Linked DNA regions of Homo sapiens. The protein of the gene in region 1 interacts with the protein of each later gene in a biochemical or structural test. Each region holds a gene or a part of one and is shown on either strand. Other genes may lie near its edges. The genes, in order: CPVL and BTK.

Region 1 (9,391 bases):
ATTGTATTGAATCTATGGATCAAGTTGGGAAGAACTGACATCTTGACAATATTGAGTCTTCATATCCATGTACACAAAATATTTCTCCAACTATTAGTTGTTCTTGATGTCTTTTATCAGAGTTTTGCAGTTTTCCTAATATAGATCTTATACATATTTTGTTGTATTTATATCTAAGTATTTCATTTTTGAAGGGTGCTAATGTAAATAGTCCTGTGTTTTAATTTCAAATTTCACTTGTTTATTGGGAGTACATAGGAAAGTGATTAACTTTTCTATATTAACCTTATATCCTGCAACCTTGTTATGATTAATCACTTATTAATTCCAAGAGGCTTTTTTGTTGATTCTTCTGGATTTTCTACATAAATAATTATGTCATCTTCATTTAATCATTATCCAATGCTCTTCTTCTCTTTATATAGATGTGAGTTTCTGACCTATATCACTTATCTTCTCTTTGAAAACTTACTTTAACATTTCTTACAAAGCAGGTCTACTAGCAACAAATTCCCTCAATTTTTGTTTGTCTGAGAAAGTCTTTATTTCTCTTTCACTTTTGAGGAATACTTTTGCAAGGTGCAGAATTCTAAGTTGGTGGGTTTTATTCTCTCAACACTTTAAATATTTCACTCCATGCTCTTCTTGTTGGCATGATTTCTGAGGAGAACCTAGATGTAATTCTTACCTTTGCTTCTCTATAGGTAAGGTTTTTCTCCCCTTTGGCTTCTTTTGAGACTTTTTTTCTTTATCTTTGATTTTTTTGAAGCTTCCATATGACTTGCCTCCTTTTCTTGATTATTTTGTTTTGGCATTTATCTGACTCCATGTTTTCTGAGCTTCTGGAATCTGTGCTTTGATGTTTTACATTAATCTGGGAAAGTTTGCAATCATTATTGCTTTAAATATTGCTTCCATTTCCTTCTCTTTCTTCTTGTTCTGGTATTCCCTTTATGTGTATGTTACATCTTTTGTAGTTGTCCCACAGTTAAGGCTATTCAAAAAAAATTTTTTTAAGTCTTTGTTCTCTTTACTTTTCAGTTTTGGAAGCTTTTATTTATTACATCCTCATGCTACTCTTAGCTCAGCTGTGTCCAGTCTACTAGTGAGCCCACCAAAGACATTCTTTATCTCTGTTACAGTGTTTTTGATCTCTAACAGTTCCTTTTGATTCTTATAATCTCCATATCTCTATTTTCAATATCCATCTGTTCTTGCAGGTTGTCTACTTTTTCCATTAAAATCCTTAGCATATTAATCATAGATTTTTTGGCAAGTATTATCTTGATTCCTAAGCCAGGCAAAGATATCATAAGAAAAAAGAAAACTGCAAGGCTGTAACTCTGACATTCATGCAAAAATTATCGATAAAATATTAGCAATCCAAATTCAACAATACACCAAAAAGATTCTACAGCATGATCAAGTGGGATTTACCCTTAGCATGCAAGACTGGTTTAACATAGGTACGTTAATCAAAGTGACACATCACAGACTGAAAGACAAAACCACATGATCATCTCAATTGACACAAAAAGTATTCAACAAAATCCAACATCCTTTCTTGATAAAAACACTCAACAGTCTGGGTATACAAGAAAAGTCCCTCAACATAATAAAGGTCATTTACAAGTGACCTTTGGCTGAGTCCTCTCCCCACCCATGGTGTTTTAAACTCTCAGACTTGTCCCTATGGAGCCTCTAGTAATTTACCAATTACTGTTCAGGTTTCCCTTCCTCACCATTTGTTTCCATGGAGGGTTCTACTTACAGGTTTGCTCCTGTTAAGTTTTGACTCCCTATATTCATCTCTCTCTCTAATTTTGGAGGGCAGCAATTTGCCCTGTGACCTCAGTTTCAACAAATCTAAAAAGAGTTCTTGATTATATTTCAGTTTGTTTGGCTTTTTACTGTTGTTACAATGGAGTGGAGACTTCTAAGCTTCTTACACACTGGAATGGAAACTGGAAGCCTGTCCATTCTTTTTTATTTTTGTGTTTTCCAGGGTTTCTTGTATAACTTTTGAATGTAGCAAGATCTTAAAGACTTTCACAAAATTTGTTGAACATTTTTGGTAATAGCTTATATATATATAAATAAGCACCTTCTAACCATCAGGCACTCTTCTAAGTGTGTTTACATATATAATCTCATTTAAACCTCACAGAAACTCACACATAAATACTGTTTTTATTCCTGTTTTATAGACAAGGAAGCCAAAGCGCAGAGAGTTTAAGTTTCCTCTCCCAAAGGAGCATAGCCAGTGACTGGTGTAACCAGAGCTCAAACTCAAGATATGCAACTTAAGAACATGTTCATAACCACCATACTCTATTAACCAGCTAACTCCTAAAAGTCCTGATCATGTTTTGACTTCATTCAGTCATAAAGAATTCAAATAGCCCAACAGATTGTTTCTCTTTCTAGTTATTTTTGAAACTGCCAATATGATATTTCAATTTACCACCCAAACATCTGAAATTACTGAAAGGAAAATGACTTTTGAGTATGCATCTCCTGTATATCACTGTAAGAAAAGGATTATGTTTTCACGTAGCTTACATAGAAACTAACGTAGTTTACAGAGAAGCTAATTTTTATACAGAAACTACATGAAAACGTAATTCCAGAAACCCAGGAAGGTCTTCCTTCAACCATCAGAGATGCTCCACATTGGCCAAAATGAACCCAGTACTGGAAAAAGACCTCTAGTTCCTATGAATAGAAACAGGCATGCTATTTTCTATGACAAATTAGTACCGAGTCTTACATAAATATGACTTTAATGGTACTAACGTTTTAAGCCAACCTAGGTTGTTCTGATTCCCGTTCTGAACACTGAGGTTCAACATCATTAACAGACAAGCCAAAGATAATCACTATCCCAAGCGCTTTGCCAGCTGCGTGAGTGAACATGCTGTCTGTTTTAGCAGCAGCCACTTTTTGGTGGCATATTTTGTTCTGTTTCTTTATGGAAATATGGTTTATCTATACCACTAAACTCTTTTCTTTTTCTGGCAACCGATTCAGAGTTGAAAAGTTTATGCCAGACACGGTGGCTCACACCTGTAATCCCAGCACTTTGGGAGGCCGAGGCGGGTGGATCACCTGAGGTCAGGAGTTTGAAATCAGCCTGGGCAACATGGTGAAACCCTGTCTCTACTAAAAATACGGAAAAAAAATTAGCCAGGCATGGTGGCATGTGCCTGTAATCTCAGCTACTCAGGAGGCTGAGGCAGGAGAATCACTTGAACCCGGGATGTGGAGGTTGCAGTGAGCCGAGATCGTGCCACTGCATTCCAGCCTGAGCAACAGAGTGAAACTCTGTCTCAAAAAAGAAAAGAAAAGTTTAGAAAATACTGGATTTTGATTTTATTGGAATTCATAGTGGTAAGTTTAGGATACATGGGCAAGAGGGACAGAGAAGTTTAAATATCAAAATGCAGGATCACCTCTAATCAATATATTCTCCTTTATCAGTCAAAACATAAGGAGAGTTTATGTCATCAGGTAAGCTGTTTGTCCCACCTTACCCTCACATGGCTGAGAAAGGAATCATATTCTAGTTAAATTTGTACAGTGAGGCCAGGTGCGGTGGTTCATGCCTGCAATCCTAGCACTTTGGGAGGCCGAGGTGGGCGGATCACCTGAGGTCAGAAGTTTGAGACCAATCTGACCAACACGGAGAAAACTCATCTCTATTAAAAATACAAAATTAGCTGGGCATGGTGGCACATGCCTATAATCCCAGCTACTTGAGAGGCTGAGGCAGGAGAATTGCTTGAACCCAGGAGGTGGAGGTTGCAGTGAGCCAGTCGCACCATTGCACTACAGCTGGGCAACAAGAGCAAAACTCTATCTCAAAAAAAAAAAAAAAAAGTGTGTACAGTGAGAAAATATATCTCCCAAGGGCACAAATAACACATATCAAACTTATCTGCTCTCCTCTCAAAAAAATTCACTCGTTCCATTCCTTAACATCACATTACAGAACATCATCTTTAAGACATGAACGCTAACCTCTTTTTGGTTTAATAAATTTGTGGATAATAAGCACCTAATGGATTATGGACAGGTTTATAGATATATTTTTGATACAGCACTAATCATTCATTCATTCCTGACATCTGCTCCAGGCTGGTGGTGGTATGGGTGTCAGACTGAGAGTCTGCACGTTAGAGTGTGCCATGTACACCTATGGGGGTAAAGACAACGCGTTCTGAGAGCTCAGAGGAGAGGACAAACAGCAGTGCCTTCTGGAGGTCCTCTGAGAAGTCTTGAAGCAGCAAGCACTAAGGGCCACTACATGTCCCCAAGAAAACCAAACACAAGGATGGCTGAAATGCTGGCCTGACCTAGTTAGACTCTTTCTTTCCAAGAAAGTAAGTATTTCATCAAGTTTTGCAGGTTTATAATGGGTTTGTAGACTTGGCATATAATTGGTCTTAAACTATTTTCAACAATGGTTACGTGTCCAACACTGTACTAGAAGCAGGACCCAGAAATGGGCCTCCTAGGTCTGGCATATTCTAAACCACAGTCTAGTTAGGGTGCATTGGCCAGGGACTGCCTGGATAGTATTGCAGATTGTGCACTGAACAATCCTAAGACACACCATTCCTAATATACACATTGTAGAAATGAATATTCAGCATGCCAGCAAATGGCAGTAAAGAGTCTGGTTTTAACTAAGGCAGTATATCAGGACAATTTCTGAAAGATCGAAATAAAGTATCTTGAGGAGAGGATGCCTTTATTCTAATTCATACAAAAATCCTATGGGCTGCCGACTGCCCTGTTTTTTGTTCATTCAAAACAGGATATAGGGAGGAAGTGGATCACTCAGTGGTGGTCTCCCCAGTCATCAGTACAGGCATCCTTCGGAGTTGCCCTAGAGACGATCCCTTGGGCAAAGGCTAACAGCACTGGAGGACCAGAGGAGGAGCTGAGAGCGTAGTACCAGGAAAGAAATAATACACAGGCTGACTTTCCCCATGTCATTTGCTCTTGGTGTCCTCCTTCCCAGTGGGAGTTCCAGGGCCCATGTCTTCTTTGCCTGAACCTCCAGGGCTCCTTTTCTGTGACCTCACTCTCCACTGGCACCTCCACTGGCAGCAAAGGCAGAGCATTTCAACCAGACAGCACAATGGCTTGACTTGACCTACTTCCAAACAGGGACCCTTTCTCATTCATCATTTCAACCTCACACCCTAAGGAGAGACTCAAAACACTGTGATTGGGTAAAGTGAATGAATACAACCATTAGGCAAAATGCATTTTCAGAATAACCAGTTGATTTCATTTATCCCTGACGTCATTGGGATTCATGTAACAAAGCAACACATAAGAGAAATCTGGCTCTTACACACGGCCAGTCATCTTTTTGGCTCTGCAACTCTTCCTTTCTCAAGAAAGGATGAGAAGTGGTGTGTGCCAAAGGGAATTTCATTTTAAGGAATAATCAGGGGAAAGTGGTTAAATTATTTTATTTTATTTTTATTTTTTTGAGACAGAGTTTTTGCTCTGTTGCCCAGGCTGGAGTGCAATGTTGCGATCTTGGCTCACTGCAACCTCTGCCTCCCGGGTTCAAGTGATTCTCACGCCTCAACCTCCCAAGTAGCTGGGATTACAGGCACCCGCCACCATGTCCAGCTAGTTTTTGTATTTTTTAGTAGAGAGAAGGTTTCACCATGTTGGCCAGGCTGGTCTCAAAATCTTGACCTCAGGTGATCCACCCGCCTCAGGCTCCCAAAGCACTGGGATTACAGGTATAAGTCACCACAACGGCAAAAGTGGTTAAATTAAAAGGAACAATATAAAACTTTGAATTGGAATCAAACAAAGAAAGGGGCTGTTATTTATGCTAATGACACATCATAAAAGTTAAAAAAAAAAAAAAGGCAGGACTCAAATTACAAATCACTTCTGCTCTGGGTAATCTGAAAGTTCCTAAAATAGTAACTGAAGTAGCTCTCTTACCTTATAATTATTCATGATTTCAGTTAACCATGGCTTAACTGACTGTACTGTATCTTCTCGCAAGTACTTTTCAACTATAGTTCCATCATTAAAAGTCTGATTCCCCACGTGGATGGCTTGTCTCACCTCTGGGAGTGACAAAAATTTCACATAGTAAAGCTGATCCTCAGGTTCCTGGCAGAAGGGGCATTGGAAAGACATAGGGAACATGATTGGTGGCAGGAACAGTATGTTGGGAAAAGCTGTGAATTTCTCATAACATACAACATGGAGAAACGTGACGGGACTATTAACTTGTCGCCATTCTTGAAATTTTAACTCGGAGGTTTTGAGATAATTTAGGTGGAATCTTTTTACTAATTAGAAATCTGAAATACCCTTAAAATACTCTTAAAATACCCAATTTGCAAATACAGGATTTTCCTTTGCAGAAACTAATCTTTTGCAATCTGTGACTCCCATTAGCAACCCCACTAGAGGCAAAGAGAGAGAAAACAAAAGAGATGAGATTATCAAAATCAATTCACTCCTTGTTGGTGGCTCTTTGGAAAGAAGGTCAAATGGATCACAAGGGCCAGGTTGGTGGTGTGCTGGATTTAAAGCTAAGAATTTCTTTTCTGTGTTCTGCTGTTTATTAAAACCACACACATGTATACATGTGCCATGTTGGTGTGCTGCACTTATTAACTCGTCATTTAGCATCAGGTATATCTCCTAATGCTATCCCTCCCCCCTACCCCCACCCCACAACAGTCCCCGGTGTGTGATGTTCCCCATCCTGTGTCCATGTGTATACATATGTAACAAACCTGCACGTTGTGCACATGTACCCTAAAACTTAAAGTATAATAATAATAAAATTAAAAAATAAAAAAAACCGCACACACACACAAAATTGGATTGACTATAATAAAGGGGAAAATATGTCAAATGTGAAAAGAGATGATACTTTATGAAGGACACAAGACAGAAGAAAAGTTGTCCATGAAGCTTATTAAAAAAAAAACTGCAATAAAGTCTCTGTAATAATCATTATACTGAAAGAAAGGAGTAAATGCTTTAAAAAAAAAACAGTTACACAAGGATTAAAAAAACTGTTAAAGTTTGAGTTTGACAACTTTGTGCTTCATCAACAATTTTTACTAACTGTGAATATATTGTTGTAAAGAAAAAAAGGTATCATCACAAATTTTGTTTCTGTCTTGTCTACCACATGTTTTTCTCTTAGTAGAATCTAAATCCAAAACTGCAGCATTGGCGAATTCCACTGAAACTAACGTTATACTTTATTTACAAACTAGTTCATAAATCAGGCAATTTTAAAAACAGAATGCATTGTCATAAGCATTAGACAAAGATTATACAAATTCAAACACCTACTTTGGCTCCTTCTGTTTGACTAATTCTACACAAAAGATATCAACTTTGGCCTACTTTTATGAAACAAACTACTTGAATACTTTGAGAAATATTCCAGAAGGCTTGAAGTGAGGGCCATACTAAATGCATTAAACATCTTAAAAGTAAGACAAAGCAAATATTTTCATTAAGGCTTTGGCAGTTTTGATTATCCAAGCGTCTTAAGTACAGAACAAAGAATGTGGGCATTTTCAAGAGACTCGTAAACAGACTTGAAGCTCTGGGACCTGAGACCCAGAACTCCAATCCCAGCCTGTGTCCTTCACAAAAGTGCCTCTATAACAAGCTCTACTTGGGGGAAATCATGTTCATCAGAAGTTGTTTTGAGTTATCTGAAATATCACACATTCTCAGTGGTCAGATTATAACGTATACAACACTGATGAGGAAAAGATTCTATGGGTTAGTAGACCACATCACGCGGTACAGTTTGGACATGTTGGTCTAGTATAAAGTCATCTATAATATTTCCCAAATCAAAGGAAGTTCGGTTTTGCCAAAAGTTTTAAGCAAACATTATTATGGTTTTTAAAATGTCATTACCGTGCACCGCAAAAAGTTATAGTAATTACTACATCCTGTAACATTCTGGAAGTAAGAAGGATCACTTGTTAAGTCGCCATCTAGTAGTTTATCCAGTATCTAGGTTGGGAGAGAGGGAGAAAGAAAGAAAGAAAGAAAACATCAGTGTGGATAAAAATGTACAGACATTTGTCATTTCATTTATTCAACAACTTTTTCATTCCTTTATTGTTTCATCCAGCGCCCACTTATTGTGCATATTCTCTGTGCTAGACACTGTCATGGCACTGGAGAAATGGCCATCAACAAAACAGACCAATGGTCCTCCCCCATGGAGCTTTTATTCTGGTGGGGGACAACAAGCATTTCTAAGTAAATTATATCATATGGTAGACAGTGATAAACTCTTGAGTATGTTAGGGAATGACAAGGAGAAAACTAAAGAGGAGTAGGAAGTGTCATGTGTGTGCATGTGTGTATGGGACAATGTAGAGAGGAGGTCACAGAGGACCTCACTTAGAAGGTGGCATTTGAGTAAAGACATATTGGATGAGAGGAATAGAGCCATGCAGACATCTAGGGGAAGGAAGGTTCCAGGCAGAGGACACAGTAAGCTCAAAGGCCTTGCCTATGGGAGTAAGCCTTGTGGGAAGGGTGCCTTAACATGGATCATGAACTGCTCACCAGATGACATGGAGAGAAGACGCAGGATATGGTGCAGATGCAGGTTCCTGGAGCTGGTGGAAGTTATCTTTGGGCTGACATTAAAAAACCCAGTCACCAGCTGAGCGGGAGAGCAGTCAGCATGGTTGCATGCTTTCCTCCAGCCATTGTCAGCTGTGTGGAGACAAGCACAGCCTGACAGAGAGGCAGATTGAGCCAGGGCTGTGGTTCAGCCAAAGGAGTTGGAAGAAATGCAAAAGAGCTTTGGGCTTGGAAATGTATGGAATGACTGACCCTGGGTTGAAGACAGGTAATTAGAGAAATGGAGACTTGAGGGGGTTAGAGATAGTGGAGAGGCAGGAGGATCAATGGATTGAAAGGTAGTGAGGTTGCAGGGCTGTAAGATCAGTACATTAGCAGAAGAGATTCGGACAGGAGGTGGTAGTTGGAGAAAGATGTTTGAATGTGTGATTGTGGATCAGCTGCCAGCATTTTAGGGTATGAGAATCAGCAGCTAAGATGAGGAGGAGAACAAGATCATTGAAAAAGAGGAGGCTGAGGCACCAAGGACCAGGTCCCAAAAGGATCGTCAATGTGGATCCTGCAGTTACCAGGAATTATGACAAGAATAATGCTGCAGAGAGTGACAGGGAGGAAGGAGCTCAGCTATTCAAATGAGAGGGAGTAACCAGGGGTTGGTAGGCAGACACAGTTGGAAGTGGTCAGAGGCCCTGTCTGAGGACAGGAGAGTCAAAGCTCAATGCTTTAGGAGGAGGCAGGGAACATGATCTGAAAGTCACATGATGAG
Region 2 (7,293 bases), on another chromosome or scaffold:
GGACTGTGCTTCCCAATGGGACTGCTCCTGGCATGGGGCCATCATTTGGTTCCTTCAGAGTCACATACTGGGGCCTGTGGATGCATTTGGCCCACATGTGTGGGTTTTTTTTATGTTATATAATAATTAGCAAACCCTTAAAAAGAAACATTTCGCTTAAAAAAAAAAAAACCCTGGAATTTCCAGCTTCTCTTGAAAATCTACACCGTCTGGAAATACCAGGTCCACATTCTCACGAACCGCCTCCTTTCCTCTAGGCATGTACTCTCCATTTCCTGCAATCTCGATCCACTTCACTTCACTCTTACTTAACTTGCCTGGCCCCTGTAAGCATCAGAGTTTGCGCCCCTGTTTCTTTCAGTCAGGCCAAGGCTCAAATTGTCCTAGTCTCACTGGCAGAAAAGCAGAAAGCAAAAAAACTTACTTCTCATTCTCCCTTCTTTGTTTTTTGTTTGTTTTGTTTTGTTTTGTTTTGTTTTGAGATGGAGTCTCGCTCTGTTGCCCAGGCTAGAGTGCAATGGCACCATCTCGGCTCACTGCAAACTCCGCCTCCCAGATTCAAGCAATTCTCCTGCCTCAGCCTCCCAAGTAGCTGGGATCACAGGCGCCCAACACCACGCCCAGCTAATTTTTGTATTTTTAGTAGATGGGGTATCGCCATGTTGGCCAGGCTGGTCTTGAACTCTTGACCTCAGGTGATCCACCCACCTCGGCCTCCCAAAGTGTTGGGATTACAGGCGTGAGCCACTGCACCCAGCCTCTCCCTTAATTCTTTCAGCATATCAGTGAGGGAATGGGGTGGTGTGGAATTGCCCATGAGAATGCAATCGTTCTGTATGTCCTCAGTGCTTTACCTAGGACTACACAGCAGGTTGCTTTCCACGTGGTGGAAATGAATCAAAATTTCTTGGTGGCATCAACAGATTCCTATTAGGTGGGAAGGTGTCTGTAGTCGAAGGAGATGAAGCTTCCCTGGCTTCATTCTACTGGTCAGCAGAAGCTTTGTGCCTTTAACCTCTGTGCTGGGGACGGAGTCTCACTGGTCTCTGTTTGCACTACAGGCAGCTCGAAACTGTTTGGTAAACGATCAAGGAGTTGTTAAAGTATCTGATTTCGGCCTGTCCAGGTGAGTGTGGCTTTTTCATCTTTCCCTCCAGAAGTAAAAATAGCACAGTATGAAACATGGGTAGGTGTTACAGTTTTAATCCTCTCCTTTTCTTTTTTTTCTCATTCTAGCGTTTTCTGCCGATCTTTCTATTCTTTTTCTTCCTCTGAGTTATTTAAGCCACCTCTTTCATCCTTTTGTTTTATTGTCATATCCCTTTCCTTCCTTTCTCCCTTTATCTCTACCTCCTCTTTTTTAAATCTATTTCCCCAATACCTTATCTTGATCTATTAATCCTGATGACTTTACTCCATTCCTCCTTCTTTCTTAATCAGTCTAATTCCCAGTGACAACTGCAGATAAAAGGAAGGGAAGGAGAAGAGCAGAGAAAGGAAAGGTGGATAGAGAAGAGGAAGGGAGTACCTACTAGATCTTATTTCACTTCATCCTTCTTGTAACCATATTGTCAATCAGGAAAGCTCAATCAGATACAAAAACAGGAAATTCGTTAAAAGTAACGTTTGTAGAAGATACTAGTTGAGGAGGAGAGACTTTTGAGAAAGCCTGTGTGTGTTTGTGACACTCTTGTGACCGTGCCAAGAAAACGTAAGCAAATATCAAGCCTCCAAATCCTAATGCAACAAGTCCTGAATCCCTTGCAGGTATGTCCTGGATGATGAATACACAAGCTCAGTAGGCTCCAAATTTCCAGTCCGGTGGTCCCCACCGGAAGTCCTGATGTATAGCAAGTTCAGCAGCAAATCTGACATTTGGGCTTTTGGTAAGTGGATAAGATTACACAGATTATACAGCTCAAAGGATAAGAAATGCAATGGGAAAATTCACACTTTGCAACCTCCACAGAGATATTGTTCTTGCTTTCATTCTTCCAATCCTTGGGGAGTGCTTACTGTGTGTCAGCCACCACAGGGGTTTCTGAGGATGAAAACTAAACTGGACATGATCTCTGCCTTTTTAGAACTTAAACCATGTTAAGGAAAACAATTCATTCAGTTTTCAACAGCTTCTGAATACTGATTATGTACCAGGCACTCTGCCAGACCCTATAACTGCAAAGACAAATAAGATGCTGTCTCTCTTCTAGAGGAGTTAATAGTCTAGTACGACCTTGATCTCCATCTAGTGTGGTCAGTACTATAGCAGAAATTTGGGCAAAATATAAAAAGCACAGAGCGGGGAACCAACTGATTCTAATCTTTGAGGTTGATCTAGGAAGACTAGGACCCCTGCTATCCAAAAAGACTGCAAACCAATTTAATAATTTTTTTCACCTTCTAGGGGTTTTGATGTGGGAAATTTACTCCCTGGGGAAGATGCCATATGAGAGATTTACTAACAGTGAGACTGCTGAACACATTGCCCAAGGCCTACGTCTCTACAGGCCTCATCTGGCTTCAGAGAAGGTATATACCATCATGTACAGTTGCTGGCATGAGGTAAGTGCTTTATTAGGATCTCTTAAATTATTTCCTTGAATCTACTTGCCCATTTAGCTGGCCATTCAGCCACCAAAGACTGATAGCTGCACACATTCTTTTTTTTCCTTTTTTTTTTTTTTTAATTTGAGACAAGGTCTCGCTCTTTCACCCAGGTTGGAGTACAGTGGCGCGATCTTGGCTTACTGCAACCTTCGCCTCCCAGATTCAAGCGATTCTCATGTCTCAGCCTCCCAAGTAGCTGGGATTATAGGCGTGCACCACCACACCAAGCTAATTTTTTTTTTTTTTTTTGGTGACACAGTCTTGCTCTGTCACCCAGGCTGGAGTGCAGTGGCACGATTTTGGCTCACTGCAACCTCTGCCTCCTGGGTTCAAGTGATTCTCCTGCCTTAGCCTCCCGAGTAGCTGGGACTACAGGCACATGCCACCGTGCCCAGCTAATTTTTGCATTTTTAGTAGAGACAGCATTTCACCATGTTGGCCAGGCAGGTCTTGAACTCCTGACCTCAGGTGATCCACCCACCTCGGCCTCCCAAAGTGCTGGGATTACAGGCGTGAGCCACTGAGCCTGGCCAATTTTGTATTTTTAGTAGAGATGGCATTTCGCCATGTTGACCAGGCTGATCTCGAACTCCTGGCCTCAAGTGATCCGCCCACCTCGGCCTCCCAAAGTGCTGGGATTAGAGGCATCAACCACCACGCCAGGCCTTGCACACATTCTCTGACCTTGGCCTGCAACTTGATCATCTGATGGCCAGAGGCTTTCCCAGGCCCACTCCGATTCTCACTAGAGTGTCATTAGTACACTCCAATGCCAGCTCAGCTTTAGGGAGTGAGGTGTTGTGGGGCCATGTCATCTAGCATAAGCAGGCAGCCAGAGGCATTCAGACAAGTGAATGGGCATTACAAAAGAAAAGTCATGAAAGTTTGTTCATTCCTTTGTGTGTCATTGGCCCTTTCTTCTACTTTATTAGCTGCCAACCGTTTCTGGCTGAGGTCCTAAATGAGATTTTTTTTTTTTTTTTTTTGAGACCGAGTCTTTCTCTGTCGCCCAGGCTGGAGTGCAGTGGCGTGATCTCGGCTCACCGCAAGCCCCGCCTCCTGGGTTCACAGCATTCTCCTGCCTCAGCCTCTCGAGTAGCTGGGACTACAGGGGCCCGCCACCACGCCCGGCTAATTTTTTGTATTTTTAGTAGAGACAGGGTTTCACCGTGTTAGCCAAGATGGTCTCGATCTCCTGACCTTGTGATCCACCCGCCTCTGCCTCCCAAAGTGCTGGGATTACAGGCATGAGCCACAGCGCCCGGCTAAATGAGATTTTTTTTAAAACCTACTGCTTGAAAGGGAACTAAAACAGGTAGTGGGTTTTTTGTTTGCTTTGTTTTGTTTTGCTTTTTAATATGGTGCATCGTGGGGTATGTGGGTAGGTGTGGTATTTTGGAAATAAGGAAATCTGTCCTACTACTATTAAACTGCTTTGCTCCTCTTACCTCGAGTTCTTCCCAAGATGCCTTCTCTACTTTTCAGTAGATCCTTGGCAACCTAAATTTCTAGTAGGAAATAAATGCTCAACTCTTCAGAGTGTCCAACAAGTGCATATGTGAATCTGGAGCCTTCTTGGTGAGGTGAAAAGTGGGTATCTGGATCCGAGCATGGCTGGTTTCCCTCGAACAAATGACAGATCACAGAGAAAGTGCAGAAAGGGAGGACTCCTTCTTTCTTCTGTGTGATGCAGGATTAAGGGTGATTGGCTATGCTCCCTCCCAATCAGGACCTTCTTACTCTGCTAATTAAAAATGATTTCAGACAGGTACTTTATCCACAGCCTGTTTAAAGGAGTGGTCAAAATTGGATGCATATCAGAAACCCTAAGGAGCTCTTAAAAATGCAGATTACTGGCTGGGCATGGTGGCTCATGCCTGTAATCCCAGCAGTTTGGGAGGCCAAGGCAAGCGGATCACGTGGTCAGGAGATCTAGACCATTCTGGCCAACATGGTGAAACCCTGTCTCTACTAAAAATACAAAAATTAACCAGGCGTGGTGATGTGTGCCTGTAATCTCAGCTACTCAGGAGGCTGAGGCAGGAGAATGACTTGAACCCAGGAGGTGGAGGTTGCAGTGAGCCGAGATCCTGCCACTGCACTCTGGCCTGAGTGACAGAGCGAGACTGTGTCACAAAAAAAAATTCAGGTAACTGGGACTTTTCTCCAGAAATTCTGATTAGCTATGCCTGAAGTGGAACCCAGAAATCTCTTTTTAAACTTCCCAGGAAATTCTGATACTCAGCTAAGTTTAAGAATCACTGAGTCAAGGAATCAAGAAATTGATGACCATTGGTTCTAACAGATTGAGAGCATTCTGGCATGAATGTTCCCTGAACCACTAAATACCAAATACCTCGGGGGCTTATGGGCCATGGCCATCAAAAAGAACCTTAGTCGTAGGCCGGGCGCGGTGGCTCACGCCTGTAATCCCAGCACTTTGGGAGGCTGAGGCGGGGGAATTACCTTAGGTCAGGAATTCGAGACTAGTCTGACCAACATGGTGAAACCCGGTCTATACTAAAAATACGAAAATTAGCTGGGCGTGATGGCGTGCACCTGTAATCCCAGCTACCTGGGAGGCTGAGGCAGGAAAATCGCTTGAACCTGGGAGGTGGCAGTGAGCTGAGCTCACACCACTGCACTCCAGCCTGGACAACAGGGTGAGACTCTGTCTCAAAAAGAAAAAAAAAAAAAAACCTTAGTCTTTTTGTTACCAGTGGTAAAAAAAAAAAAAAAAAAAAAAAGGTCCCAGGTACTCAGAATCCCTGCTCAGTAATACAGCCTGTGGTTTTGAAATATTAATCACTAAAAATTATCACATGGGATTTCTGTTCTGCCAACCACTTGAACTTGTTTGGTAGCCATTTTTCACTTGAGGATCCAAAATAAGAATGTGTTGTATACAGTTACATAATGAACTTGCCCTCAATTTTGATCAGTGTGATTGTCAGTTTAATTTGCAAATTGTTCTTATCACACTAATAACCTGAGTTACTAAAGATGAAAAGTGCACAAAGACTTTATGGAGAGCTGCTATTTCTTTTTTTTTTTTTTTTCCTTTTGTAATCGACAGGGCATGCTACTGGGCATAGAGCATATATTTAATAAACATTTGCTGCTTACTCATTGCATTTCCCTTGAATTCTGGATTCTAGCCACTCTAACACTTTACTTTTTCTTTGGTTTTAGAAAGCAGATGAGCGTCCCACTTTCAAAATTCTTCTGAGCAATATTCTAGATGTCATGGATGAAGAATCCTGAGCTCGCCAATAAGCTTCTTGGTTCTACTTCTCTTCTCCACAAGCCCCAATTTCACTTTCTCAGAGGAAATCCCAAGCTTAGGAGCCCTGGAGCCTTTGTGCTCCCACTCAATACAAAAAGGCCCCTCTCTACATCTGGGAATGCACCTCTTCTTTGATTCCCTGGGATAGTGGCTTCTGAGCAAAGGCCAAGAAATTATTGTGCCTGAAATTTCCCGAGAGAATTAAGACAGACTGAATTTGCGATGAAAATATTTTTTAGGAGGGAGGATGTAAATAGCCGCACAAAGGGGTCCAACAGCTCTTTGAGTAGGCATTTGGTAGAGCTTGGGGGTGTGTGTGTGGGGGTGGACCGAATTTGGCAAGAATGAAATGGTGTCATAAAGATGGGAGGGGAGGGTGTTTTGATAAAATAAAATTACTAGAAAGCTTGAAAGTCTTTGGTATCTCTATTAATCATGCAGCCTCCCTGAAGCGCCCTATCTCAGTATTCCAGAAAGCTGCTGTGTAGCATTAGTTTGGCATATTCCTACACTGAGAACTCGACAGGATCCTCCAGGTTTAAGCCCTCTTGTTAACTCCTGCCTCTGAATCAAAGATGCATTAAGCAAAAACAGTGCCTGTCACAGCACGCATGCAATGTTATTTGAATGAATCTGAAAGTTGGGCACAAACTGCCATAGCCTCATTTCCCTACGTCGGGAGAGGAAAACTCCATCAAAAAACGAAAGCCAGGGGCCCAGGATAGCCAACTAATCGACCCAGTCAACTAACTGACCCAGTGCACAACTCTGGTAGCTCAGAAAACGCGGGCTAATTTGGAAGTGGACAGGGGCGGAGCTGTGGGGCCAGCACGGAATGGATCACGTGGTCTGAAGTAACTTCCTTTTCTCCTTTCTTTTCTTTTTGGAGTAACATCTCAACGGCACCTCGGCTCTGGGCTGTAAGCCCTGCGATCTCAAGGCGCAAGGCTGGGCGCAACGGCAGGGTTGCGGGGTTACGGGATTGCGGGGTCCGGGGAGTGGAACCCGCCGACTCCGGGAACGAAGCACCGGCGCCAAGGTGTGGGAGGCGGCGGGGTGGAGTTGGACGCCTGCCTCGCGCCGACGCAGTGCACTCACGGGGGCGGTCCCAGAGGCAGCTAGCTGTGGTTCCGGTTCCGTCGCGGAGACACGTGAAGGTCGGTGCGGAGTTCGTCTCTGCAAGCTTGGTCGCCCTGGGATGGATTCCTCCTCCTCTTCCTCCGCGGCGGGTTTGGGTGCAGTGGACCCGCAGTTGCAGCATTTCATCGAGGTAGAGACTCAAAAGCAGCGCTTCCAGCAGCTGGTGCACCAGATGACTGAACTTTGTTGGGTGAGGAGCCTGGGGCTGGGACCTGAACACTGTACCTACTTTCCCTCTGTCCTTGTACCGCGGGACTCGC

What was found.
Region 2: the proteins of CPVL (region 1) and BTK form a complex in vitro, tested with the Homo sapiens proteins (one study listed by BioGRID).

What each region holds. Positions count from the first base shown.
Region 1 is NC_000007.14:29,058,082-29,067,472, forward strand, and holds part of CPVL (probable serine carboxypeptidase CPVL isoform b precursor), read right to left. Parts: intron 8,041-9,391; coding exon 7,942-8,040; intron 6,154-7,941; coding exon 5,980-6,153; intron 1-5,979. UniProt on the Homo sapiens protein: May be involved in the digestion of phagocytosed particles in the lysosome, participation in an inflammatory protease cascade, and trimming of peptides for antigen presentation.
Region 2 is NC_000023.11:101,348,463-101,355,755, reverse strand, and holds the end of BTK (tyrosine-protein kinase BTK), read left to right. Parts: intron 1-1,061; coding exon 1,062-1,126; intron 1,127-1,767; coding exon 1,768-1,886; intron 1,887-2,404; coding exon 2,405-2,562; intron 2,563-5,799; coding exon 5,800-5,871; 3' UTR 5,872-6,306; downstream 6,307-7,293. Other genes in the region: TIMM8A (mitochondrial import inner membrane translocase subunit Tim8 A), read left to right, coding at 7,092-7,223. UniProt on the Homo sapiens protein: Non-receptor tyrosine kinase indispensable for B lymphocyte development, differentiation and signaling. Binding of antigen to the B-cell antigen receptor (BCR) triggers signaling that ultimately leads to B-cell activation.